Linked DNA regions of Homo sapiens. The protein of the gene in region 2 binds, or shares a complex with, the protein of the main gene of each other region. Each region holds a gene or a part of one and is shown on either strand. Other genes may lie near its edges. The genes, in order: CPSF6, NUDT21 and CPSF7.

Region 1 (9,286 bases), on a different chromosome or scaffold from region 2:
ATTTTCTGCATGTTAGACCCACCTACCTCATATCTGACAGCTATAGTAATTGTGTAGGTAGAACCTGTATTTACATGAGACAAGATACCACAATAAAATGCTATGGCCTATCTTACACAAAAGTATCTAACACAGTATCTTGTAGAGTAGGTACTCAACATTTGTGCAAATGAAAAATTTAAAGTAGTATGTTCCTAAATGGTTAGTTTGGGTATCAGTAAAGCTTAAAATCTTACAGGGGTGGTGGCTCAGTATCATGACATTCAGTAAATAACTGAAAATTTAGAATCATAAAATCATTCTAACCTCTACTCACTATATTCTGCTAGTCATAACCTTTCAGAGCCCATTACCTCCCTTTTAAAAGTAGAACACTGGCCAGGTGTGGTGGCTCATGCCTATAATCCCAACACTTTGGGAGGCCAAGGCAGGAAGATTGCTTGACCCCAAGAGTTTGAGACCAGCCTGGACAATATGGCAAAACCCCATGCCTACCAAAAATATAAAAAAGTTAGCCAGGCATGGTGGCATGCACCTGTGATCCCAGCTACTCAGGAGCCCGGGGTAGGCTGCAGTGAGCCATGATCACACTACTGCGCTGCAGCCTGAATGACAGCAAGATCTTGTCTCAAAAAAAGAAAAACAAAAAAAGAATACTAACTGTCTTATAGGATAATTAAGAAACTAATGAAGCAATAGGTACAAAAACAATTTTTAAAAAATGTTGATGGTTGACCAGGCACAGTGGCTCACGCCTGTAATCCTAGCACTTTGGGAGGCAAAGCCAGACTCATCACTTGAGCCCAGAAGTTCGAGACCAGCTTGGCCAACGTGGTGAAAAACCGTCTCTACTAAAACTACAAAAAATAAATAAATAAATAAATAAATAAAAATAATAAAAAAAAATTGGCCGGGTGTGATGGCTCACACCTATAGTCTCAGCTACTCGGGATGCTGAGGCTGAAGAATCACTTGAACCTGGAAGGCACAGGTTGCAGTGAGCCAAGAATGCGCCACTGCACTCCAGCTTGGGTGAGAGAGCGAGACTGTCTCAAAAAATAAAATGTTAATAGCAATCCCCTAAAAAACAACAGGACAGCATCGGTGATTGTGTTCTTCAGCTGGGTTGACAACCGTTAAAGTGAAAACTGATGAAGACAATTACTGCCTTCTCCGTCCCATAGCTTGATCCATCTACCCTCTCCCAGGGGATGAATGTGTTACTAGATGGACTGCCACCATAAAAATGGGAGCCTTATCTTAGATAGCAAACCCTGACAATCTCACAGATAAACACTGTTACTTCTAAACTAAGCCATGCCCACACCACAATGCCCTCAATTTCTATTTCAAAGAAAACATAAGTCACTAAATATGACATCTTAAAATTTCTACCACACACCTACAGCCCACAAACTTCTATTTTTATCTACCCTTATCTTCTCTCCTGACAGGAAGAGGTGTTTCTCTTTTATCTATTCTTTTATCAATTTAATCTGCAGCCAAGAAGCTTTTTGAAATGTTGATTATGACACTTCACACAATTCAATGATTCCACATGACTCTTAGGACAATCTTTAATGTGACCTACAAGCTCCGGAGAGCCTAGCCTTGCCAACTGCTTGAGCTCCACACATAGGCTATGTTCTTCACTCCCTGCTTCAGCCAAACTGGCATTCTTTCAGTTCCTACTAGCATGCTCCTCTTGCCAAAAGCCCTTTTTGCAAGTCTCTGCCTAAAAGGTACTTCCCTTTCCCATTCACCATTTTTTTCCTACAGATCTCAGTATAACATTAAAGTAGTAAATTTCATTTTTTAAAGTTTTTCTATAAAATGAATATAGATTTTTGAAAGGTAAAGTATATATCATTTATCTGGAACTGACAATAGTTTATCAGAACTGATGTACCACACGAAAATCCAAGAACTGTTAATGAACTATAAATGGGAGAAAAAGACCAACAACATCATTGGAAATCATTTCTAATAATTATTGTTTCATGGTAATGGCTCTGAAACAAAACTAGGAAGACTGGGAAAAGTCTGTCCATAAATCTTTTGTAAAAAAAAAGCTTCTCTCTTTCACTAAATTAGGTCTTGAACTGAGTCATATGTAGTGTGGCATCTGGCCAAAAAATATTCCTAATGATCTTCTCTTAAAGTTAAATGACCTCACAGGGTAGGGACGAGAGTCTCAACTAATTCAACACAAATAGGGATTGATCAATGGAAACATACAACAAACAGTAACAGGAAATCTAACAAAAATCTGAACCACAATTTTAGTGGAGGCATGGAAAGGGATCCCAGTGATGGTAGTATTATTTCTCATGTTCATATTCACTTGTTTAGAACTGTTACCTTTAATACTCTGAAGCTTGCAGGTAAGAAATCTGAGGCCTGATATTAATACCTGGCACAGAAATATCTACTGAAATCACTGAAACTGAAGTCTGTTACTGTTTCAAAAGTACCCCATAATGTTTCCAAGCTAACCAGTAAAATATTTTTGCTACAAACATTTTTACTTAAGTCTAGTAAGGTTAATGATCCTCTAAAACTAGACAAATGCTTTCTGAATCTTCCATTTAAAAACCATGTAACAGCCTGGAAATCTGTCAGGCCTCTTAATCCTAATTTTAGCCCAATTATCAGTCGCTTTAAAGAGCACCAAAATGTCAATACACAAGAAAACCACCACTATCTGGCTTAAAGATAGAATACAGACAACAGTCCAATTTCTGCTATACTGCATATTGCCAATAAACATTAACTACTTAAAACCATACACAATGGTTACCAAATAACAAATTAAACAAAAAAGACAAACTGCAAAGTCTTATCAAAAGTTTGTTTTATTTTCAATACAAGATAAATACCATGCTTGTTACTAGTGCAGTTTAAGGCCGACAATGGCCATATATCAAACTGCCGAACAGTCACCTAAATGCTAAAGAAAGGAAAGACAAAGTAAACATTAAACACAAAATTGCAATTACAAACATTTTAATAAAATGGAATGAGCTTTTTAATTGAAGCTAATATGAAGTCTAATTCTCATGGACAGCAAAAAAAAAAAAAAAAAAGTCTATTAGATCAATTATCACCTTACCTTTTTGCACAGAAATCTTATTGTGAAGTCACCATAGAGTCAATAGCTAAAATTTTAAGACTTTCTTTGGCCTTCTGATATTAAACAAATTATTTACAAACTGTGATCAGTAATTCGTGGATATTGGTAAAATGATACAATTTTTTGTTGTTGTTGTTAAGGGCTTTCCATTAAAAATTGTAAAACAACTTTGTAAGGCTGTACAGGGCTGTAAACTACTTTGCTAATATACCATGGGATGCAGAGGAAGGAATAATAGACCTTTTTTTTAAGGCTAAAGTTATCAATGTTATAGATGCATTCCTTAAAATACATTATGATTTATACCCAAAGGATCCTTTCCCATTAAATACCACCTGAGTACTACAATTTTCAAAGTAAAAAAATAAACATGAATTCACCATAGTTATTTTAAAATAATTTAACTTACAGAATGTTGAGAAGTGTTACGCAGTAACAGTGCGACAAAAAGAACACACTTTCAAAACAAAATGTTTTCGCTAAATGCAGGGTCTGTCCAATTATGAAATTAATGTAAAACATTTACACCCATGGCAGAGTTTTAGGATACTCCCACGTGAAAAAAACTCTTGGTAGTATTTACTATGCAGTTACCACTTCAAGATGTGTGTGACTTCAATTAAATTCAACCTAGTATTTAAAAGACTCCATTACAATATGTTAATACAGCAGGAAGTCTTTAAAGACATTAAAATCTGTCGTATATAATCAAGTATTTATACGTCCCATACAAAAACCATAGTAGCTGCATACTCAGTGAATGCCACAACCTGAAATTCTAAAAAAAGAACATTGGTTAAGACAAACCTAAATCAATCTGAACAGTGTTGCCTGAATATTTAGAATATTCACAAAAATTCATATTGCTTCTTTCTAATGCCAAGAAAGAAGAGTATAAGAACTTCCTCCCAGAAGCCTAGACATTTTAATACATTTTCTATTTCAACTTACAATGAAACTTTAATCCTGAATCTTGATTTATCTAAATCAAAAATCTCACATTACGAACACAAGGAATGCCATATGTAAGGCCACATCTTAATAAATTTATAATTTTTGGTTGAATATTTATTGAAAAAATCAGTCTAAGGCTTCTAAGAGTCAAGTTGCTTAAAAAAATAAATACACCAGTGTTTAAACTGAAGTTAAGGTTAAAAAAACGCATACACACACACACACACACACACACACACTGTAAGAACAGAAAAATAGAATGCTTTGCTACAAAAATCCCACTTAATATATTTTAGCACAAAAATGTCTAATATACACTGGATAAGCGTGCATTTACGTACATACAACTAGGGGAAACATTTACAGAGGGCTACGGGATGCAAATGAACTTAATGAGTAATAAAAACCAGTTGTTATCTGTAAAACAGAGAATCTCAATACTGTATTCTCAGTCAAGAATTAGAACATAAACTTCCTCTTAAGCTGAAGCTTAAAACACAAAATTGGAGCCATTTTAGAAAATACAGAAAATGCAATGATCATTCAGGTATGAAAACCAAAATGTCGAGAGCACTCCAACAGAAAAGTCTTGTAATGCATCTCATTGTATAAAACAGTATGTATTTAGATTGGCACAGTTAAATACATAAGGGAAAGAGAAAGTCTTTGCCCTTTCCACAATTTTCCTTCACTATAAAATATTATACAACATTCATTAAAACCTCCATGTTTATTTTAATAACTGACCTGAAACTAGTAAAAAATAAAGCAATATTCTCCACAGGAGAATTAAATGAAAATAGTATCTTAAGCTACAAGTTATCTGTGTATTCCAAATTGTCATTAACTGCTTAAGAACATTCTAGGTAAAAGGACCATTAAATGGGCTAAACTATGATCAAAAGCCACTGCAACTTACTCCAAACCTTATGAAAAGTGACAAAAAAAAAAAACACACATCTGCAAATTTACACTGGAATATGCTTTCCACAACATAGTTCCTTTAACCAAAAGCAGCACTTTCAATCCAAAGTGTTGCCTCAGAAGCAGTACCATTCAGGTACTGTATCACTCATCTGTTTAACTTTACTACTGGCTGAAAGGAATGTGACTGTATAGCACTAATAAATGCTATGTTTTAAAATTCAACTCGTTTGTTTTCACATCCACTACAGTTATTAACTAAGGAAAAAATGAAAAGGTCTCTGAGACACTGTTTTTGGTGTCTATGCAAGGATTTATCTCTTTGGATTGTTTTTACACATTAAAAAAAGGAAGAGTTTTCAAATAACATTAACCCATAAACAACTGAAGGGGGTATGAAGAACAAAACAAGGCCTGCAATTTTCACCTTTACTGCTATACATTCACGTGTTATCAGGTAGAGAAGGACTTTGCAAAATTACTTGGTCAAACCAAGAAGTTATTTCCTTCTGACAACACTTAAAATAACGGATTAGCAGCAAACAAATCTAGTACACTCACACTGTCTGTAACGAAAGTCATGTAATGAGATCAGCCAAGCAAGGAGAAGAGTGATATAGAAGGAGCAATTAAAAGGTTCCATTGATAAAATATGAAAAGGTAAATAAAGGATTTAATTAGTATAAAATTTCCAGTTTCATTTCAAGTGCAGTTAGATTTTTGTGATTCCATTTTTAAACTGTTCAAAGAAAATTTTATTTTCATGGACATTTTACTTACCTTTTAACCCTTTACTATTAACTAATTTCTCTTGTAATATTTATATGTCCATACTTCTTCGCATTAGGGCATTGTAGTCAAAATATTAAAAAGCCAAGAAATGACACAACAATATACAGAAAACAGGAAAATTTTGATACAACTCTAAAATAATGTTAAAAAAGCAACCGCATTTTCAACAAAATGCTTTAAAAAATCATTTCTGAAAGTGAACAGTTCTGATAAACATCAACGATCCCATGCACAGATACTTCAAACACAAAATATTTTAAAATAAAACTGGCAGTGATATGGGTAATTCAAAACAGCTAATTTTGTCAGAAGTGGTTTGATAGCAGACAAGATGAAAGTGAAGAACAGCAGTGGAAATTTCTGGAGGGTTTCTACAGTTGCACATAACACAGTATCTAGGGTATTTTAACACTTTAAGCATTGTCCTAGAATTTGGGTACTCTTTAACAACCAATGTGTATTAACAGAAGATCTCTCAAAGATAATCAGATCTTAAAAACATATTAACGTGCTCAAGAATTTTAAGTCAAATTTCTGAAGTAGTGATTTCAAATTACATTCCCATAAAAACACCTAATCAAGTTGACACCCTGCCTCTGCCAATTTTGCAATCAAGAACACATGCTAGTCAGGTGCTTTTAAAGTGGGCCTATATGTAAGGCAGGTTTGAAAAAAATCTTTGATTAAGTAACTATAGCATGAATCAATACGGTGCATGAATATACATAGTATTCCTTAAACTGTGCAGACACGGTTTATCTGTAATTTCCCATTACAAATACTGGGGAATACAACCGAATGTTAATGAACATCACATCCTTCAAAAATTTATACCAATTGGAAAATATAAGGCTCTCTTTACTCACATTTACCTGCTGCAGGGCTGTATTTACACTGACTATGGCTTAAGAAATAAACCATAAGATCAATAAAAACAGCAAGTAATTGCAGCATCAAATCGGAATTGTCAAAATTTCTTCAATGTTAGCGGTTCACAATTAAGTGTTTCGGTACATCTGTGTTGTAATTAACCTGCATTACACATCAAATATGTACGGGTTTTTACTTATGTGTTAAAACCTCTGTTTTTTTGACCCCTTACACATTGACTAGATTGCTATGTCTGTCAAATCTCTATTTTTACAAGTTTACATACCATTCAGCAAAGTCACAAGCTAACTAGGTAAAAACAGCTAGAAAAGCAGAATATAGAAATATTAAATATCCATGTAATCACCTATTCTAATATCAAAATCAAGGGCAAAAGACACTTAATTACTATGTTTAATTCACTGAACGCAAGATTAGATTGAGGCATATCCAAAAACGCTATTGCAATGCTTTAAAGGACAGTAAAAATGTTGTCATAGTAACATTATCTTTAGATATTGCTGAACACAAGACTTTCCCTGAGGTGTAAACATCAAATAACTTGAACAGCTTTACACATCAGCCCCATTAAACAGTTTATTACAACACTACATCTATTGTAATCAAAGTGATGCTGTTTACAGACATTATCATATAAACATTTTTAACAAGAACAAACTACTACAAAAACAAGCATTTACTTGACTTTTTTTCCAATTGCTTGCACATCATAATGGCCAAATGTATATAACCAGTAATAAAGTTGCAAAAGCTATAACTTTTTAAATCACACAGGTTTCCTTCAAATAAAACAGTTAAGCAACATAAAAAATAAAAGTAGAGCTACTGGTTACCATTTATGCAGATTTGCTTTATTCAGATCTATTCCTGTTCATTTTATCCATGAATCCTTACAGGTTCAGTTCAATCACAAGAAGCAAACTGCTGGACAAGCGTCATTTTTCCCCCATGAAGACTGTTTTGTCTTGGAAGGTGATCCTCTTCCTTCAGCTGTAATGTGTCAAAATTTGTGATGTAGATTTTGCTATTCCCCAAAATACACAGAAAAACGCTGGCTTAACTATACATACACAAGTCGTGCATCTACTTCACTGTTATGTATTCTAACACAAAATAAGAATTAACTGAAACAGTAGCTGCCTTTGTGGTGGTGAAATGTTCCAATTTACCTGATGATTAAACTGAGACATTCTGATTTCATTCTTCTTAAATATTATTGCCTTATAAATTTAATGACTGAAGCAGTAATGAAAACATAGCAGCTACTGTTTCTGTGATGATGGAAACATTCATAAGTCATTTTCTAAAATATGCATACTACAAAAATAAATGGAAAATGCTTGGATGATTTTTATGTAAATATTTTTCATTCACCCACATATCAAGTCTATAAACTCATTTAACAATTAAATGCTGAACTAAATATAAAATGCAAAATTATTTTACAAATTAATTTATTTAACAGCATACAGGAACTTCTGCAAGTATTATAAATCAAATGGTGTTCCATGTTACAAAATTTGTAAGTAAGATTTATAAATAGAGTATGGACATTTAAATTAATGACATCCACGTACAAATCTTTAGACGTAATACAAATTTAAAACATTTACTTTACTTTTAGTCTATTCCACCTATATAGAAATACCTAACGTAGTATTATAAACTAACCAAAACAAGCTAAGTGGGAATCTACAATGATAAAGTTCATTTAAAACTCACATAAAAGAAAAAAAATAGAATAAAGTTGATAAACTAAAATTTAAAGAATACATATATATGCAAACTTCAGGTAGAGGTTCACAAGAAACATTCAATTAACTTGGATATAAGTAACCACTGAAACAGTCGGTAATGAAAGTATAAATGACAAGAAACCACTTCAATAATAAAGTGATTTAAGAGTCAAGAGGGCAGAAGGTTTTTTAAAATTTTTTTTCAGTTTGAACATGTTCATAGGGCACAGTTTAGTGATATTTTGAAATAAAAATAACTGAAAAATACTTTTTGCTCTACAATTAAGAGTTACTTCTGCCACTGCTATAAATTTTTCTATTATGTCCTTTCCTAGGTTGTATCTTAAGAGCATCAGTACATATATGCATTCACACTGCCTAGCAGTAATAACTTAAAATTTTAAAACTGCAAAAGAAAAAAAAATACAATCCAGACTTCTCTTTTATATATATAGTTTCTATATGCCTGTATCTTTCAGATAACTTCAGCCATTACTATTGTTATCTTTTATTGCATCTTCATCTTATGTTGATGAAGCTATTTAGTGAAACTATTTAATGGGGAAAAAATACAAAATGGCAGCTTTCAAATGTTTTATTTTTATTATCTGCACTACACTATTAAAAAACAGGTTTATGTATTAGAGAGAGACAAGGCATATGTTCTAACCTGAAATAATAATTACTGGGAAATTAATAAATCTAACTGCAAAAGAATGCTATCTCCCTAAATTTTCTGTTGCGCTGGAAGGGATAAAAAGTCATTAAGAGGGAAAAACTATTTAAAGTCATAGCAAAACAAAAATATTCAACTCTTCCATAAAACATATCACATACACTGCATCTTTGTGTCATT
Region 2 (5,700 bases):
AGGTACAGAAAGTTGAACATTTTTTGGTTCATCCATATTAACTGTCAAATTTAAAATATTCTGAGCCACTTGGGAAGGTATAGTTCATGAATTTTGGTCTTTAAGGAAACTAAGAAAGTAGATAGACTCTTAGATCATGTGCAAGCCATAGATTAATTGTGACTAATACCATCCCCAGACTCTTAAGTTTCGGCATGACATTCTGGTATTTGTGCAACTGCTCTTCCCTAATTCTGATATTCTCAAGAGTTAAGGTTGATGTCTTTATTCAAAAAAGAGATGGTTAAATAGCAGTCAACAGTGTGTAAATATGAGCGGAGTTGTCTGTATTAAAATGTGGCAAATTGGCTGGATGTAGTGGCTCATGCCTGTAATCCCAGCACTTTGGGAGGCTGAGGCGGGGGTGTATCACCAGGTCAGGAGTTCGAGACCAGTCTGGCCAAGATGGTGAAACCCCATCTCTACTAAAAATACAAAAATTAGTGAGGCGTGGTGGCCAGCGCTTTTAATCCCAGCTACTTGGGAGGCTGAGGCAGAGAATTGCTTGAACCCGGGAGGCAGAGGTTGCAATGAACTGAGATCACGCTACTGCACTCCAGCCTGGGCGACAGAGTGAGACTCCATCTAAAAAAAAGAAAAAAAAGGTGGCAAATCGAATATCTTGGTGTAATATATTCGTTTTCCTTTTTTGAAACTTACTATATTTTGGCCCAAATTGAGGCTTGTGGGATTAGGTCCTGAACTTTTACGTGGGGTTTGAATCTTTAGGCAGTTAGAGTGATAAGAAATGCAGTTTTTTAAAAGTTGACTTGTACTGGTTGAGGTCTCTATTAGAGCCAGCCATATATAGGAATTGCAGAATAACATGGTGGTTATGAAAGTAGATTCTGCAGTCAGTGTTTTGGATTTGAAGCCCAACCTCAGTACTTGCTGGCAGTGTGACCTTGAACAAACTATTATACCTATTTGACTGTTTCTTCTTCTGTAAATGGGGATAGTAGTCTCTACTTCAGAGGATTATGAGGACCAAGTGAAATAATGCATATAAAATGCTTACAACAGTGCCAGTAATCTGGTACATACTTAATAAATGTTAGTGAAATTGGCCTTTTGTGAAAGCTTATTGAGTATGAAATTGCTCTTTCTACTTCGTCACTAATCAAACCTTATCTTTTGCCACTCCACTTTGGCCTCCTGATAGGTTACAAGTTGAAATGCATATGGGGGGAAAAGAGTCATATTATTTATTCAAACACCTACTTGTCAAGTGCAGGAACTGTGCTGAGTAGTCAGAGTATAAGGACATGTAGAAACTTTTCCTGCCTTAAAGAACTTATTAGTGGATAATTAATCAAATTTATAGTCTTAATTTTTTTTATTATAAGTATTCAACAAGTGTTTTTAGTGTGTAAGATGTGACCAGTGAGGGAAAATTGGTGTAGAAAATGCCAAACGTGGTAAAAAGGCATTCGAAGGGGAAAAAAAGAAAATGCCAGACATGCTAAGGGAGGGCAGAAACATCCAGATAAATTTATTTATCTAATATGGAAAGTAGTATGTACTGTCTTTAATAAAGGTATTGTTCTTTTTAAAATTCAGGTTCAATTTTATTTACAACTGAATTCCTGCGCAGTGGAGAAGTAAAAGAAGCCGCTTGTCTCTGTGAGCACAGCTATATACAGTGTAGAATAAATGTGGTAGAAAAGTTTTTTTGGTTTTATCTCTTTTGCGATCCCTAAATTGCCACCTTTCTATTGTTTGAATAGTAAAATTAATATGAAGAACTAGATAGTGGTGTAAACAAATGTGATAATGTTTATTTACTTTCGGTTCTGCTCATACTTTTTTGTACAACATTAAAGAAAATGGACTTTTTTTATTTTAATTTCTCATTAAACTTCTAAAATTCTTATAGGTGAGGATCATTTTTCCCCCCACCTTAGGATGGTGAATGTTGCAACACAATGACAGGTTTAAGTCAGTCAAGTTTATTGGACCCTTGCTTTGATACCATTCTTGGGCACATACTCCAAGATTGTATTAGATTTTTGTGATGAAGAGCTTCCATTACTTCTGAAAACTATATTTATCTGAGTGAGTCCAAGGTGCAACTCCTAAATGAATTGTGTTGCAGAGAACTCCCAGTATAATTCACTGACCAGTACATTTTATAACCATCCAGGCCTTGGTTTGCAAGCAACAGACCTTAAACATACAGGAAACTATTAAAATTGGCTCGATCAGTAGTCATAGGAATTGGTATAAGAAGAGACTCATTTAGAGCTCAGAGTTTTCTTCACATAATGGGGGTATTAATTATTTGTGCTGTTGCGAAATTATGTGTCTTATTCTTAAAGCCATGGTAAAAATAGGGATCTGTGAAGGAAATTTCTAAAATTGGATGTATTAGGTTTTGAACTCTGAGATTGCACAAATATTCAATTAACTTGAAGTTGTGTACATAGAGAAGAAAATTTGGTTTTAGCAAATGACAGAGCCTTCAAAAATATTTTTGGAATAATGTGAATCAACCGAAAACTGGGGGCAAGGCAGAGGACAGGTTTTCTCAGGTTAAGAGAAAAACGAAATTTTAAAAACTTTAAAAAATACTGATAAATTCGGATCAAATTTGGGGGAATAAAAAATATTAGAGCAAAGGAGTTTGCTGGTTGTGTCATTATTTAATGATCAAAGTATAGCATGTATGCCTTATTACAGACTTGTTGACTATAGGCTTAATGTAAAAAGGAATCTTGCCAGATGTAGCTACTTAAGGAAAAAAGGGTTTTTAATAGAAATGAACTTTTGATTAGTATGGTGCCAGTCACAGGGCTATTTTCCTGAATATTGGGTGATGTCAAAGGTATATGATACTTGAGGAAATCAGGCCAAGTGTAGCTGAGCAATTAATAAACACTCAAGTTTTTTTAGTTGGGGTCATGTCAAACCCTCACATGGTGGTTAAGTAGTGACTAACTGTGCATGTCCTTCATGGTAGGTGAGCACCAGTCTCCATGATCAAAAATGCCCCAGTTTCCTTTGAAAAAGCCACTAGTTCTGTGAATTGTCCTTTTCCCTCCTGCCCCTAACAGTCCTACCCCTCTAGCCTACATTAGCATATTTCTCATGTAATGTATTTTGCTGGTAAGCTCATCCATTAGCTGCGTCCTTCAGCTATTCCTTTAGATTGGAGGAAGTGGATATGAAGATGGATTGATTCAGCTCACCTTCCATGATTGCTTTTGAGGGAAAAGCTACAGTGGCCACATTTCAGATGTTCACTTTTGCAATTTGTGGAGGGTGGAGAGAGGTAGACTTTTGTTGTGTGTTTTATAAAGTACTCTCAGTAAGGAGTGTTTGAGTTGAAGAGTCATCTGATTCGAGGCCACTCATGTTCTTTGTAACTTAAACTTTGACCAAGAAATTCTTCACTTCTCACTTCTTCACTTCTTCCCAATATACAGTAAGTACGTGAGCCAGTCATCCATACACTAAGGCCTAGTTGAGAAAAACCTTTGATTCAGGATGGCTGGGTTACTAACCTTGAAATGTAAGAGATCTGGTTTTGAATGTAAAAGTTGCAACACACAAACGGAAGTCTTAAAAACTTTTTGCTCTGGTCAGTTACAGGTGGATCCCCAATAATCTGTTTTTGGTTTTCTGATGGAAATAATAGAATTAGGGGAAATCAAATCTGGTTGGTAGGTGTCTACAGTATTAGAAGAGGGTATAAGGGCACTGTTTAACACTAAGTTCTAATACTTCCAGAAACTGTGCATTCCAGATCTACATACTAAATGCTCTTATCATTTTGAAATGGGCTCTTGATTAATAGACCCATATTTTTTAGTGGCTTCTATGTTGTATATTTGTCTAAAATGAAAGCTCTTTTGCGTTCTAAAACTACAATATATGTCATCTTATTTTCCCTGAGTATCCAAGTATAGTGCAGATTCTATGTAAAACTACTAAATGACACTGGAATATGTTTAGTAGATTAGGGGGAAAAACTATAAAGGTTTATACAATTGTTTGTAGTTACATTTAGGATGGACTTATCCCTTTGGAGAAGAGTGAAGTTTGTTTTTTCGCCATGTGATGAAGACCACTGTGATTTTTTAAAAAAGTAGATAATACTTAAAATGGCGTAATAATTCTGCACTTGAATTTGTACTGTTAACAGCACATTTGGAAGATTTTAAAACTTTTTATTGTCTTATAAATAGCATTCACTTATTATTTTGGATATTTAAGGGTTCCATTAAGTTAACACTGTATTTGGACAAAGTGTGACCAAATTAGCCAGTCTGTTTTCTTCCATGTTTAATTAGAAGTGAGAGGTAGAAGTACTTCAAATTCAACAGGCCAGCAAGCAATCGGCTTAAAATTCCCTTTCTTAAATGTTGTGCTCTTATGTTCTCGGCTTTTTAATGACTTTATTTTTACAGTACTTGTTCAGTCACTTGAGATGAAATGCTTGGGGTAGCTTTTCCATCCTCAAACTTAATGTTTTTACTAGTTCATAGTGTTTGGAACAGTATATGCCAATCACTGAGACTGCATCAGAGTTTGCAATTTTGTATGTTTCATTGCCAAAGAAGGCTTAGTGGTTGTTGACTGTAGTATAAGTCAGCTTTCTGTAGCATAAGATTTGATTTTCCCATACTTACTTCACTTGTTATACATCACTGATTATTTGGGTTAAACTGGACTCATTTCAAGCAGTTTGCTTTTGTTCAAATCGTGATGAGAAACCTAATACTGTAATTTGATTTGAGCCATAAAACACATTTTAATATTAGCTTGTATTATAGTTATTAAGCTTGTTTTTGTGGAAAAAAACTTACTAAAACCTAGGTAACTCTAGATTAGGCCAGTTCAGGTGTATTTTGTATCTTAGTAATGGATCATATCGTAAAAATAGAGATAAGTTGGGAAGATATATTGATTATGCTGTTCTGTTGAGGGAAAGGTCATGTATTTAGAAATTTAAACTTTTGGTTATTGTGTTCACATCATAGTATTCAAGCATCATTTATAGTTTGGTTTTGAGAACTTTTCTGGTATTACGTTTATGGCAAATGTATAAAAGAAACAAGTTTTGGTTATATTTTTATATTTGTAAAGTAAGTTTGGTTAAAGTGATCACTGTTCTTTTTTTATTTTATTGTCATTTCAATAAAAAATATTTGAAAGAGAATGACTCTGTGATTGTTTTGGGATAGTAGTCCTGTATGTGTGGCTGCTGATCCTACTGTGCTAGTAGAAATCTTGCATGGTTCGTCACTGTGAGTGGCCGAGGGCCTTTAGGTAAGAGACAGCTTAGCATAATAGCAAGGGCCTGATGGCCTGGGTCACTGATGTTGCCCTCTCCTTGTGCCCCACACACTCCCTCCTCCCATTGTGTGTTAGCAGTGTTTCAGTTTCCTGAGGTGTGAAAGGGTCACTAGATTTGGAACATGAAGGCCACAAGTTAGAAGTTGCTACACAGTTGTGTTAACTGTGTGTAGTCCATATCATTGGGGACTGAGTCCGAGTTTCCTCATCTGTAAAGGGAGGGTTGACTCCTTTAGTTTTTTTTCTCAAACTTGCCTGGAATTCATAATGTTCTATGACACACACCATACCTGCTGCATATGTAATACTGTGTAATTCAATGTTATCTTAAATAGAAAGTTTACCCAAAATACGGGAATATAT
Region 3 (12,319 bases), on a different chromosome or scaffold from region 2:
ATGTGTCTAAAATTTGTAATGTAAAAATGATCACTGAAAATTGAGTAGTGGACTAACATGCAGATTTGGACAGCTCAGAGACCAAATGCATCACCAGGAAACCCTTCGTACTATATGCTTAGGCAACCAATCCACTGTTTTAAGATCCCTTAAGAATAGGATAGACTAGATCCTGGAGAATCTTGGTATGGCTACCACTTTTAGAAACAAAAGGATTGAATGAATACAAAATTATCACAAGATTTAAATGGTCTCTCTGGGCCACAGAGCCTCAGTTCAAAGAAGCTGGTGGGAACTGCACAGGGCAGGTCTGTTGAGGGTTCTACTGAAGAAACAAGGTATCAAATTGTTTGGATTTTAATCCCCCAGCATCACAATTCATTTTACTTGTTCAGCTAGTAAGACAGAAACACAGTTAAGGGCCGGAGATTTTTCTCAGCGGATTTATGCAGTAATAGATTAAAGTAAAATCAAATTCTACAAATTAAGTGAAAAGTACATTTTACATGCACTGATGTTCAAAGTTTCATTCCAGGGAGATTAAACATGAAACATATATTTAATACTGAATAACTATCTCAAAGAATTTTGTGTTTAATGGCACAGAAAGAACTGTGACTGTCTCATGAAACTTCCTGCTTCCCTGTAAACAAAAGAGAACATGTGTGATTTTCAATTTAAATAAGATCTTCTCCACTTGTCTGCTCAGTGTTCCTAACCTCCACCCTCTTCTTCCTCATATCCCACTGAGGGAAGTAACTAGCCTAGGATTTATTTTTCTCAGAGCAACCAACTTGATACCATTGTTTCTTTTAATTGTAACCAAGGCTTAATCAAAAATTTTGGCTTTATAATGACCATTTCCACAGTTCCCACTTCACACCCTCCTTGTCCTTCACTGTACATTGTCGTTGTCCACCACCCCTACCCACCAGGAGTGGAATCTGTTTTGAGTACAGGGACCCACTTTTTTTTCCTTTTACCTCACTAGTCCTGGCACAGTGCTTAGCAAACACAAGTAGCTCAATAAATAAATACTTATTGATGGACATAAGGAAGAGAACTGGACACTGTGCAAAGCCTGTCTCAGTATGAAAAGCCAAAACTCCCAGCAGAGCAACTGATCTCAGTCACCTTTCCAGAGTTCTCCCTGGCCCAAGAGAGCCAATGTGAATCCCAGGACTCCCTGTGTTACAGGAATAAAGTAGCTCTGGCAAAAACAGGCTTTTGCAGCAAATGCTCTAAGAGATCAGGGAATAAGCACCATAGGGTTCCATCTAGGAAAAATATTAATTTTCCTTGAGGAGCAAAGTGCACATGAAGGGCTTCCTGTGCATGGGCCAGCTTGGGGCGAAATCAGTAACATTCTTAAAACATTCTAAAACACAATTTGTACTGGGTGCCTTCAGACTAAGCCAGCTTCTAACAATTCTAGCCAAAGTTTTTTTGTTTTTTTGTTTTTTAAATAATTTCTGTAGCTTCCAGATGACACTAACACTAACTTTGTCAAAAATAACTAATTGATATGTGTGTGGGGGGGAAGCACTCATCCCTCACCTTCCACAAAACATAAGATATTCAAAATTCACACTTTCTTCAGCTTGCCTAGTGTCAAATATTGCCCGTTGGATATATGTATCTATTAAAGTCCACATACTACCTTTAGCCTGTCTTAGACCCATAAAAAAGTCCTTTTTAACTGAGGAGACCAGAGAACAAACTATTGAGGCCAATAACTTATACTCTAACAAAGCAGTGACCACTGGACAATGAGTTCTGCGTATTTCTCAAAGTGAAATGAATGGCACTATTATCAATCCACAGATAAGAAATTAGAAGGGGAAAAGCTTTTCATTAATAACAAAGGTGGCTGGGTACGGCGGCTCACGCCTGTAATCCCAGCACTTTGGGAGGCCGAGGTGGGCAGATCACAAGGTCAAGAGATTGAGACCATCCTGGCCAACATGGTGAAACCCCGTCTCTACTAAAAATACAAAAATTAGCTGGGCATGGCGGTGCGCGCGCCTGTAGTCCCATCTACTCAGGAGGCTGAGGCAGGAGAATCATTTGAACCTGGGAAAAGGAGGTTGCAGCGAGCCAAGATGGTGCCACTGCTCTCCAGCCTGGCGACAAAGAGAGACTCTGTCTCAAAAAAAAAAAAAAAAAAAAAAAAAAGAGAAGAACTAAGGACCGCTCTTGTTATCTTGGTGGGGGAAAAACATAATCTGCAAAAAGTCTGAACTGGGCAGAGTGGCTCACACCTATAATCCCAACAGTTTGGGAGGCTGAAGTGGGAGAATCGCTTGAGCTCAGGAGTTGAGAGACCAGCCTAGGCAACACAGCAAGACTGTGTGTTTTTTTTTTTAAGGTATTAAAAGTCTGATTCAAATGAATATGGAAAACTCAGGAAAACAATGATTTTGTAACTAAATTAACATCTAGAACTTTTCTCTTTTATCCATAATTATTGGACTTATTTAAAACTAAAAAATTTTTTCGCCATGCACGGTGGCTCACGCCTGTAATCCCAACTTTGGGAGGCTAAGGCGGGCGGATCACAAGGTCAGGCATTCGAGACCAACCTGGCCAACATGGTGAAACCCCGTCTCTACTAAAATTACAAAAATTAGCCAGGTGAGGTGACCCACGCCTGTAGTCCCAGCTACTCAGGAGGCTGAGGCAGGAGAATCACTTTAACCTGGGAGGCAGAGGTTGCAGTGAGCCGAGATCGCGCCACTGCACTCCAGCCTGGGTGACAGAGAGAGACTCTGTCTCAAGAAAAAAAAAAAAAAAAAAGGAAAATTCATCTATTTAAGATAATCAGCAGCTATATTTAAAGGACCACAGTTAACCACAACAGAGACAAGAAACCTGCCATTAAAAAGTATAATTGGTGAAGCTGTATAATGGGTACAAGGTCATTACATTATTCTGCTTTTGTGTATGGTTTATAATTTCCATGTTATAAAACCATAATACATCAAAAAATAGATTTTCATGTAAACTTATGCCAAGTGAAAAATAAATGGCATGTATCCGCCTCTTCTGTTGCCTCATATCAAAGTCAGGGTCAAACCAGGGAACTTTCCCTTTCTAACCCATTCAATACATGCTCTTACCAGGTCCTTATGTGTACCCACTGGAAGATGCAAATGGGAAGAGCCAGCTTACTTACATAGAATGGTGCTGAAAATAACCCAGGCAAGATATTAGTACGTTTTCAATAGAAATTTTGGAACATTCTTGAGAATTGACCTCAAGACTGAAAAACTTAACTGCATGGAAGATTATTTCTTTGAGAGAATTTTTCTTGTGTTTTTAAGAGTCAGGGTCTTGTTCTGTTGCCCAGGATAGAGTGCAGCGGCCCAATCATGGCTCACTGCAGCCTTGAATTCCTGGGCTCAGGGAGTACCTCTTGCCTCACTCTCCAGAGTAGATGGGACTACAGGCACAAGCCACCATATCTCGTTGTTGTTTTTTTTTACATTTTTGTAGACTGGGTCTTGGTATGTTGCCCTGGCTGGTATTGAACTTCTGGTCTTAAGTAATCTTCCCATCTCAGGCTCCAGAGCAGCTGAGATTACAGTCAAGAGCCACCTTGCCCAGCTCTAGATAAATTTCTGTATAATGTTCCCTGGTACAATAAAAACAAATCCAACTGAGGGTATGTGCATGGGTCTATTATCAGTTTTCTAACTGGTTTGTCTAACGTCTTTACTCTTTTATTCCCTCTAGAAAGACTAAAGGTAACCAATACAATTTATTATACCAAAATGCCTGTGGACTTCTCATGACTGGAGTCAACCTACTTATAAAAGGAAGTAAAACTTAATTGGAATGGAGTTGAAACTAAATGTTAAAGTCATCTTTTCTACTTTGCTTTTGCACTGTCACGATGGAGGGGACTACACTTCTCCAGCTGCAGGTTGAGAATGTAAAGGAACCGGTATCAACACTGTCCTCATGAATACCGTAGCAAATGTACTTTTGATTTTTAAGTGTGGTTAGTCTGACACCCACCTTTGGCTTCCTGGGGAGTAAATTCCACAGGTTGATTCACCATTCTATTACACCTGCTTTTTATTTGCTCTTAAATCAAAGCCTTTAAAATTAAGCCTGGAGCTTCAAATTAACATAAAGAGGAATGGAGTGTAGTCTTTAAAGTTTCTGCAGGAGAAAAATTTTAGACCGGATAGACGCGTGTTCAAGCCTAGGACTGGTACAGCTTGAAACCACTGCCAGTTTGCTGAAAATGATTCCTCAGATGATCAAGGAAAATCCCAAAGCTCCTGATGACACCTCACCTGGTTGAACTCCTCGTCAGCATATATATCAATCAAGTCCACTCCTTCTGACATGGCTCCGGAAGGAAGATCGCGAGTCCGGAGGATGGACAAAGTAAGGAAGATGCCACTGCGGGATTCGGAAAAATGCAAGAATTAGAAGGCACGAGGGTCCTGGGCTGGGAAGAGGGTAATGATTGCTAACCTCCCATCTCCAGAGACGCAGCATCCTGGCGGCCCCAGCTCGGCCCCACCCGCTCCGCCCCGCCCCCGGCCTCGCGCCGCCCACCGCTCTCCCAGGCCGCCGGGGGTCGCTGCCCATCACCCTCGGGCCCGACCCGGGTAGCGCCGCGTCTGCGCCGCAGCTGCCTATGGCGCGACGGAAAAGTCCCACCCTCGGGTCCTAGTGGCCCTAGGACGGCGTTGCGAAGAATGACCGCGGCGAAGCCCGCAGCCCCTATCCGCTGCACCTGCCTAGCCCCCAAGGCGGCTCCGGCCAGAGCCCCCAGGTGTCAAGCAGCTCCAGCCGCCTCTGCCCCCAACCCAGGCCTACTCTTCGCCCCCAGCTAGGCCCGCCCCGCTCCCTCCCGACAAACCCGGCCCGGCGCGCTCTGCCTCCTCCCTCAAAAGGCCCGCGACTCCCTCCGCCCGCAGACTCCGGCCGTCCCATCTCAACCGACCCCCTTCCCGCCTCAGTGCCGGCCCGGACCCCTCTTCCGGCCCAACCTGCCCCCGACCGCGCGCCCCCGTTACCGGGAATATGGCGGCGGCGGCGGCGAGTCCGGACTAGGCCCGAAGCGCGCGAACCGCTCTCCGCCCCAGGTCCCGCCCCCCCCGCCGCCGGCGTCACACGCACCGCCACTTCCGGCATGCGCAGGGACGCACCTTCCGGCTCAGCTCCTCCGTGGCTGCCGTGGTCGGCTGGCCGGGCGGCTAGGAGTTCCCGGAAGTGCCCGCGCAGCCGGTTTCCGGTGCAGGTGGGGAAAATGGCGGTGTCTACAGTGTTCTCGACTTCGTCGCTGGTGAGGAGAGAGAACGTTCTAGCGTCCGGGGCGGGCGGCAGCGGGGATTACCCTTTGTCTTCCTCTGTGGTCTCTATCTTGGGGAGAGTTCGTCTGCCCGATAGCGCAGGGCAAGGGCAGGCCCAGGGAGAGGCCGATCCTGCAACTCAGGAAATAAAGGTCGCTTCCATTCTTTGGTGAGCCTACTGTGTGCCGGTCTGGAAATATCTGCTTAAACGATCAGTCATCGTCCAAGACCCAATTCGCCTCTCACCTACGTCCCAGGCGGGATTAGCCCAACTTCCCTGGGCTCCCCTTCTCCCCGTTCTTTAGTCTTTAATGCTTTTCGTGGTTTCACATAGTATCTTCAGCTTTTTGTTTGTTTATAATTGACATATAATTGTACGTGTTTATGGGGGTACAGTATAATGTTTTAATACATGTGTACATCGAATAATCAAATCAGCGTAGTTAGCATGTCCATCACCTCAAATCTTTATCATTTATTTACGGTAATAACTTTTCAAGATCTTTTTCTAGCATCTTGACATATACAGTACAGTGTTATTAGCTGTAGTCACTCTAATATGTAATAGAACACTGGAACTTATTATTCTTTTTTCCTAGCCTGCTGTTATAAAGTAACTAACTTTGCCTCTATCTTCCCCTCCTACCCCCATCCCTATCTTTATTCTTTTTTTTTTTTCCTGCAGACCCAGGGACTCGATCTTTATTCTTTTTTGATGTAGGCGTTTACACTATAAACTTCCTTCTTAGTACAGCTTTTGTCGCATCTCATAATTTTGTATATGTTGGGTTTTAGTTTGTCTCAGGATATTTCCTTTTTGTTTGTTTTTTGTTGTTTTCCTTTTTTTTTTTTGAGACGGAGTTTTGCTCTTGTCGCCCAGGCTGGAGTGCAATGGCACGAACTTGGCTCACTGCAACCTCCACCTACCGGGTTCAAGCGATTCTTCCGCCTCAGCCTCCCAGGTAGCTGGGATTACAGGCATCGCCATCATGCCTGGCTAATTTTTGTATTTTTGTAGAGATGGGGTTTCACCTTGTTGGCCAGGCAGGTCTCGAACTCCAGACTTAAGGTGATCCGTCCTTCTCGGCCTCCCAAAGTGCTGAGATTACAGGCGTGAGCCACCGCGCCCGGCCTGTTGTTTCCCTTCTTTTTTCTTTTTTTCGTAGAGACAGGTTCTCACTATGTTGCCCAGGCTGGTCTCAAACTCCTGGCCTCAAGTGATCCTCCTGCCTCAGCTTTCCAAAAAGTGCTGGGATTACTGGTGTGATCCACCATTCCCGGCGTGTCTCAAGATATTTTCTAATTTTCCTTTTGATGTCTTCTTTGACTCATTGATTGTTCAAGAGTGTGTTGTTTAATTTCCACATATTTGTGAATTTTCCACCTTTTCTTTTGCCATTGATTTCCAGATTTTAATAAAATGTCTCTTGTGCGGCATATAGTTGAATCTTTTTTTTAATTCATTATATTCAGCCACTTCATGTCTTTTGGTTGGGGAGGTTATGTTATGTTATGTTATTTTCTTGAGACAGAGTCTCGCTCTGTCGCCCAGGTTGGAGTGCAGTGGCATGATCTCGACTCACTGCAAGCTCCACCTCCTGGGTTCACGCCAATCTCCTGGTTTAGGAGTAGCTGGGACTACAGGCGCCCCCCACCACGCCTGGCTAATTTTTTGTATTTTTAGTAGAGACGAGATTTCACCGTGTTAGCCAGGATGGTCTCGATCTCCTGACCTCGTGATCTGCCCGCCTCAGCCTCCCAAAGTGCTGGGATTACAGGCGTGAGCCACCGCGCCAGGCCTGGAGTTTAATCCATTTATACCTAAAGTAAATAGTGGCCGAGGTGGGTGGATCGTGTGAGTCCTGGAGTTCGAGACCAGCCTGGGCAACATGGCAAAACCCCTTTTCTACTAAAAAAAATTAGTCAGGTGTGGTAGTACACACCTGTAGTCCCAGCTACTTGAGAGGCTGAGGCGGGAGTGCGTCTGAGAAGTCAAGGCTGCGGTGAGCCTTGATTTTGCAACAGCACTCCAGCCTGGGCATTGGAAGTGAGACCTTGTCTCAAAAAATAAATAAAATAGGGAAGTACAATCATCCCTTTGTATCCATGGGATGACTGTTGTAGGATCCGCTGTGGATATCAAACTCTGCAGAAGCTCAGTCTCTTATATAAAATGGCATAGTATTTGCATATAATCTACACACATACTTCCATATCCTTTAAATTATTTCTAGATTACTTATAATACCGAAAACAATGTCAAGGCTATGTATATGCTTGTTATACTATATCTTAGTTGTTTTTTAATTGTTGTATTATTTATTTCTTTTGAATATTTTTGATCCACAGTTGGTTGAGTGTGCAGTTGGTTGAATTTACAGGTGTGGAACCCACAGATACGGAGGGCCAACTGTGCTTGCTGTTGCCGTTTTGTAAACTGTTCTCTGTCTTACAACCTTTTTGCTCCTCTTTTCCACTCTTGTCATCCTTTATATTTCGTTGACTTTTTTTTTTTTGTAGTGACATACTTTGAGAAACGAATTTCTCATTTCCTTGTGTGTCTTACACAGGTATTTCTTTGTGGTTACCATGTGGCTTATATAAAACATAACAATCTGTTTTGATAACTTAATTTCCATTGCATACAAAAACTCTGCTCTTTTATGACCCCCTTGTATGTTGTGGATGTCACAAATTACATCTTTTTATATTGTCTCCATTAACAAATTTTTATAGTTGTTTTTATACCTTTGTCTTTAATTTCTATACCAAAATTAAAAGTGACTTACATACCACAGTTACAGTATTATAGTATTCTGTACTTGTCTCTCTCTATATATTTTTTTAATTTAATTTTTTTTTTTTTTTGAGACGGAGTCTCGCTCTGTTGCCAGGCTGGAGTGCAGTGGCGCGATCTTGGCTCACTGCAACCTCCATCTCCTGGGTTCAAGCGATTATCCTGCCTCAGCCTCCCGGGTAGCTGAGACTACAGGCGCCCGCCACCATGCCTGGCTAATGTTTTGTATTTTTAGTAGAGATGGGGTTTCACTGTGTTAGCCAGGATGGTCTCCATCTCCTGACCTCGTGATCCGCGCACCTCAGCCTCCCAAAGTGTTGGGATTACAGGCGTGAGCCACCGCACCCGGCCTCCAGTGATAATTTAACACAACTCATACCAGTATCACACAATTCCCTGGAACTATGTGACAACCATTATTGTTTCTTTTATGGAATGCTGCCTTGATACTAACAGAAAAAAATGGGTGAAATTTGGCTAAAATAATAAGACATCCCAATTATTAGAACAATTTCCTTGTACTGATGAGGATAGTCCTCCCCATCCGCATTCATTTCTGTAGAAATTACTCAATCATGTTATTTTAGTATAGAAAGTAGGAATCCCTGCCTTCAGTCTGCATCAGAATCTCTTAGAGGGTTGTTAAAAATTCATTCGTCAGGGCCCAGTCCTAGAGATTCTCATCCAGAATGTTTATGGTGGGGCTTGGGAATCTGAATTTTCATCGCATGCTGTATTAGTTTACTAGGGCTGCTATAACCTGTGTGGTTTGAAGAACAGAAATTAATTTTCTCATAGTCCTGGAGGCTAGAAGTCCAAGAGCAAGGTGTTGGCAGGTTTGGTTTCTTTCGAGGCCTCACTCCTTGCCTTGCAGATGGCCACCTTTTCACTGTGTCCTCACATTTCTCTGTGCATGCACATCCTTGGTGTCTCTTTTGTGACTTTTTAAAGACATAGGATCTTGCTTTGTTGCTCAGGTTGTACTTTAACTCTTGGGTTCAAGCAATCCTCCCACCTCGGCCTCCCAGGTAGCTGGGACTATAGGGTCATGCCACTGCACCCAGCTTTTTCTGACTTTTGACAGTTTGATTAAAATACGTCGCAGTATGGACTTCTTTGGGTTCATGTTAATTGAGATCTGTTAGGCTTGAATCTGGATGTCCACTTCTTTCCCCAACTTTGGGGGTTTTTAGCCATTATGTCTTTTTTTTTGAGATGGAGTCTCACTCTATCACTGAGACGAGTGCGATGGCACAATCTCAGCTCACTGCAACCTCTGCCTCCTGGGTTCAAGCAATTCTCCTGCCTCAGACTCCCCAGTAGCTGGGATTACAGGCACGCGCCACCATGCTTGGCTACTTTTTGTACTTTTAGTAGAGACGGTTTCGCCATGTTGGCCAGGCTGGTCTTGAACTCCTTACCTCAGGTGATCCGTTCACCTCAGCCTCCCAAAGTGCTGGGATTACAGGCATTAGCCACTGAGACCAGCCAATTATGTCTTCTAATAAGCTTTCTGCCCCTGTCTTTCTCTTATACGACTCTCATAATGTGTATATTGATCTCCTTGATGGAGTCCCTAAGGCTTTCTTCACTCCTTCTCATTCCTTTTTTTTTTTTTTTTTTTAGAAAAAACCCTGACTAATTTCAAATGACCAGTCTTTGAGTTTGCTGACTCTTTCTGCTGCTTGATCAGGTCTACTATTGATTTTCTCTAGTGAATTTTTTAATTTATTTTAATTTTTTAATTTTTTTTTTTTTTTTGAGACGGAGTCTCGCTCTGTTGCCCAGGCTGGAGTGCAGTGGCACGATCTCAGCTCACTGCAAGCTCCGCCACCTGGGTTCACGCCATTCTTCTGCCTCAGGCCTCCCAGGTAGCTGGGACTACAGGCGCCCGCCACTATGCCCGGCTAATGTTTTGTATTTTTAGTAGAGACGGGGTTTCACCATTGTTAGCCAGGGTGGTCTTGATCTCCTGACCTCTTGATCCACTCGCCTTGGCCTCCCAAAGTGCTGGGATTACAGGCATGAGCCACCACGCCGGGCCTAATTTTTTAATTTTTATGTATTTTTATTTTTTAGAGACGGGGTCTCACTGTGTTGCCCAGGCTGGTTCTCGAACTCCTGAGCTCAAGCGATCCTCCAGCCTCAGCCTCCCAAAGTGCTAAGATTATAGACATGAGCCACCGTGCCTGGCCTCCTCTAGTGAATTTTTCAATTCAGTTACTGTATTCTTCAGCTCCAAAATTTTCATTTGGTTATTTTTTAATGTTTTCTGTCTTTTTTTTGGTTTTCTCATTTTGTTCAAGCTCAATGTTCAAGTTCTCAATGTTCCAAAGCTCATTGAACATCTTTATTATGGCTAGTTTGAATTCTTTATAGGTGATTCATATACTTCTGTTTCTTTAAGGTTAGTTTCTGGAGATGTATTTCGTTCCTTTAATAGGACCATGTTTTCCTCTTTATTCATGTGCTTGGTAACTTGTACTGGTGATTTCTACATTTGAAAAATCATCTGTCTCTCCTGGTCTTTGTACTGGTGATTGGCCTTCACTAGTCAGCATGGATAGAGATTCCAAGGGCCTCTCAATCCTTTACTGAGGATGTGTCTTTTCTGGACTTGCGGATGTAAATTCCCATTTAGAGGGATTTGCCGGTTTCCTTTTTCAGGAGCCCATAATCTCTTGCTCCCTCTAGTGTCTGCGTATGATACTGCAGTTTCTCTGGAGCTGCTACAAGTCTCCCAGCTGTCGGTGGCCTCCAGACTTTTAGAGTATGCCATGTCCCATCAGTGCCCCAAGCTGGGCAAGACAGAAACCAGTCCCTCTGGTAGCTTCCCCAAAGGACAGAATGTTACGACTGGGTGTGGTGGCTCACGCCTGTAATCCCAGCACTTTGGGAGGCCAAGGTAGGCAGATCACCTGAGGTCGGGAGTTCGAGACCAGCCTGACCAACATAGAGAAACCCTGTCTCTACTAAAAATACAAAATCAGACGGGCGTGGTGGGGCATGCCTGTAATCCCAGCTACTCGGGAGGCTGAAGCAGGAGAATTGCTTGATCCTGGGAGGCGGAGGTTGTGGTGAGCCGAGATCGCGCCATTGCACTCTAGCCTGGGCAACAAGAGCGAAACTCCGTCTCAAAAAAAAAAAAAGTCAGAATATTAGATGCACACTCCACTCCCCTCAACCCTGGGAGAGGCCACTGGGCTGTATTGGCCTTTCTCTGCAGTTTCAGGGATCCTCTGGATCAGCAGCAGGCCACCCAGGCATTTAGAGTGTGCTAGATCCTTTCAAGTGCTTAGAGACAGAAACCAGTCCCCCAGAGAGCCCCAAAAAGCTAGAATGTTGGATGCATACTGCACCTGTTTCCCTCCCTAGGGAGAAGCTGGGAGGTGGGAGTTTTCTCCTGCTTGTTCTGCACTGAGCCAAGGATGAGTGATGAGGGAGTGAGTGCTTGCCAGTCTAAACTGTCACCTTTGTTCTCCATGGTTCTTTGTTCTCCCTCAACCTGCTGCCCTTTTCTGTTAGCACTTAGATTCAAACAAAACAGAAACCTGATCCCCCCAAAAGTCCGAACATTATACATACTTTTCAGTCTTCTCTTTCTGTCTCAGGTAGAAGCTAGGAGCTGGGGGTTATCTCATGATCATGCTTGAGCAGGGAGGGAAGAGACTATGGCAAATGAGTGCTACAAATTTTTCTGCTGGATTCGATGCAGCTGGTTTTGTGCTCACCTGGGGAGCAGGAGCCTCTTACTGGTTTCTGGATTTCTCACAGGGAATTGGTTTGTTTGTTGCTGTTGGCTCAGTGTCTCCATCGGGGAAGGAGGATCTGGGGTTTCCTACTCCACCATCTTCACCTCTTGCTGAGGTCACCACCTTGACATCATATCTTGATAAGTTGTCAACTTCTCTGGATTGGGAGCCTTTGGGGGATTAGGGATCATGCTGTCTCTGTGTGCTCAGGATTTGACACAGGTGAGTGAGTAGAGTATAAACCACACTGTAAGAATTTTAAGGGAGTGCAAAGGAAGGAAAAATTATTTCTGCTGGGATAGTTTCTGGAAAGGCACTGGTTAGGGACACATTTGCAGTTAGGACTGTGTTTTAATTCTAATTGCAGTTACTATTTGGATGATTTTGGGTGAGTTATTGAACCTTCCTGAGCCTCTGTTTCCTTGGCTATAAAGTGGGGACAATATCAGCATAATTTC

The links.
Region 1: the proteins of NUDT21 (region 2) and CPSF6 are in contact, whole or in part, in a crystal structure (PDB 3P5T), measured with the Homo sapiens proteins. Residues at the interface, in NP_008937.1 of Homo sapiens: Pro151, Asn152, Glu154, Pro156, Tyr158, Tyr160, Pro162, Ala163, His164, Ile165, Thr166, Lys167; in NP_008938.2 of Homo sapiens: Trp90, Trp91, Thr92, Thr93, Asp94, Glu95, Lys113, Phe114, Glu116, Asn117, Arg118, Ala119, Asn120, Gly121, Gln122, Ser123.
Region 3: the proteins of NUDT21 (region 2) and CPSF7 are in contact, whole or in part, in a crystal structure (PDB 3N9U), measured with the Homo sapiens proteins. Residues at the interface, in NP_008937.1 of Homo sapiens: Arg68, Asn152, Glu154, Pro156, Tyr158, Tyr160, Pro162, Ala163, His164, Ile165, Thr166, Lys167; in NP_001129512.1 of Homo sapiens: Trp91, Trp92, Thr93, Thr94, Asp95, Gln96, Glu112, Lys114, Phe115, Glu117, Asn118, Arg119, Ala120, Asn121, Gly122, Gln123, Ser124.

What each region holds. Positions count from the first base shown.
Region 1 is NC_000012.12:69,267,910-69,277,195, reverse strand, and holds the end of CPSF6 (cleavage and polyadenylation specificity factor subunit 6), read right to left. Parts: intron 7,685-9,286; 3' UTR 2,838-7,684; downstream 1-2,837. UniProt on the Homo sapiens protein: Component of the cleavage factor Im (CFIm) complex that functions as an activator of the pre-mRNA 3'-end cleavage and polyadenylation processing required for the maturation of pre-mRNA into functional mRNAs.
Region 2 is NC_000016.10:56,428,633-56,434,332, reverse strand, and holds the end of NUDT21 (cleavage and polyadenylation specificity factor subunit 5), read left to right. Parts: coding exon 1-2; intron 3-1,599; coding exon 1,600-1,621; 3' UTR 1,622-5,200; downstream 5,201-5,700. UniProt on the Homo sapiens protein: Component of the cleavage factor Im (CFIm) complex that functions as an activator of the pre-mRNA 3'-end cleavage and polyadenylation processing required for the maturation of pre-mRNA into functional mRNAs.
Region 3 is NC_000011.10:61,424,878-61,437,196, forward strand, and holds the start of CPSF7 (cleavage and polyadenylation specificity factor subunit 7), read right to left. Parts: upstream 5,099-12,319; 5' UTR 5,037-5,098; exon of another isoform or gene 4,954-5,036; coding exon of another isoform or gene 4,880-4,953; intron 4,414-4,879; coding exon of another isoform or gene 4,359-4,413; coding exon 4,305-4,358; intron 1-4,304. Other genes in the region: SDHAF2 (succinate dehydrogenase assembly factor 2, mitochondrial), read left to right, coding at 5,270-5,305.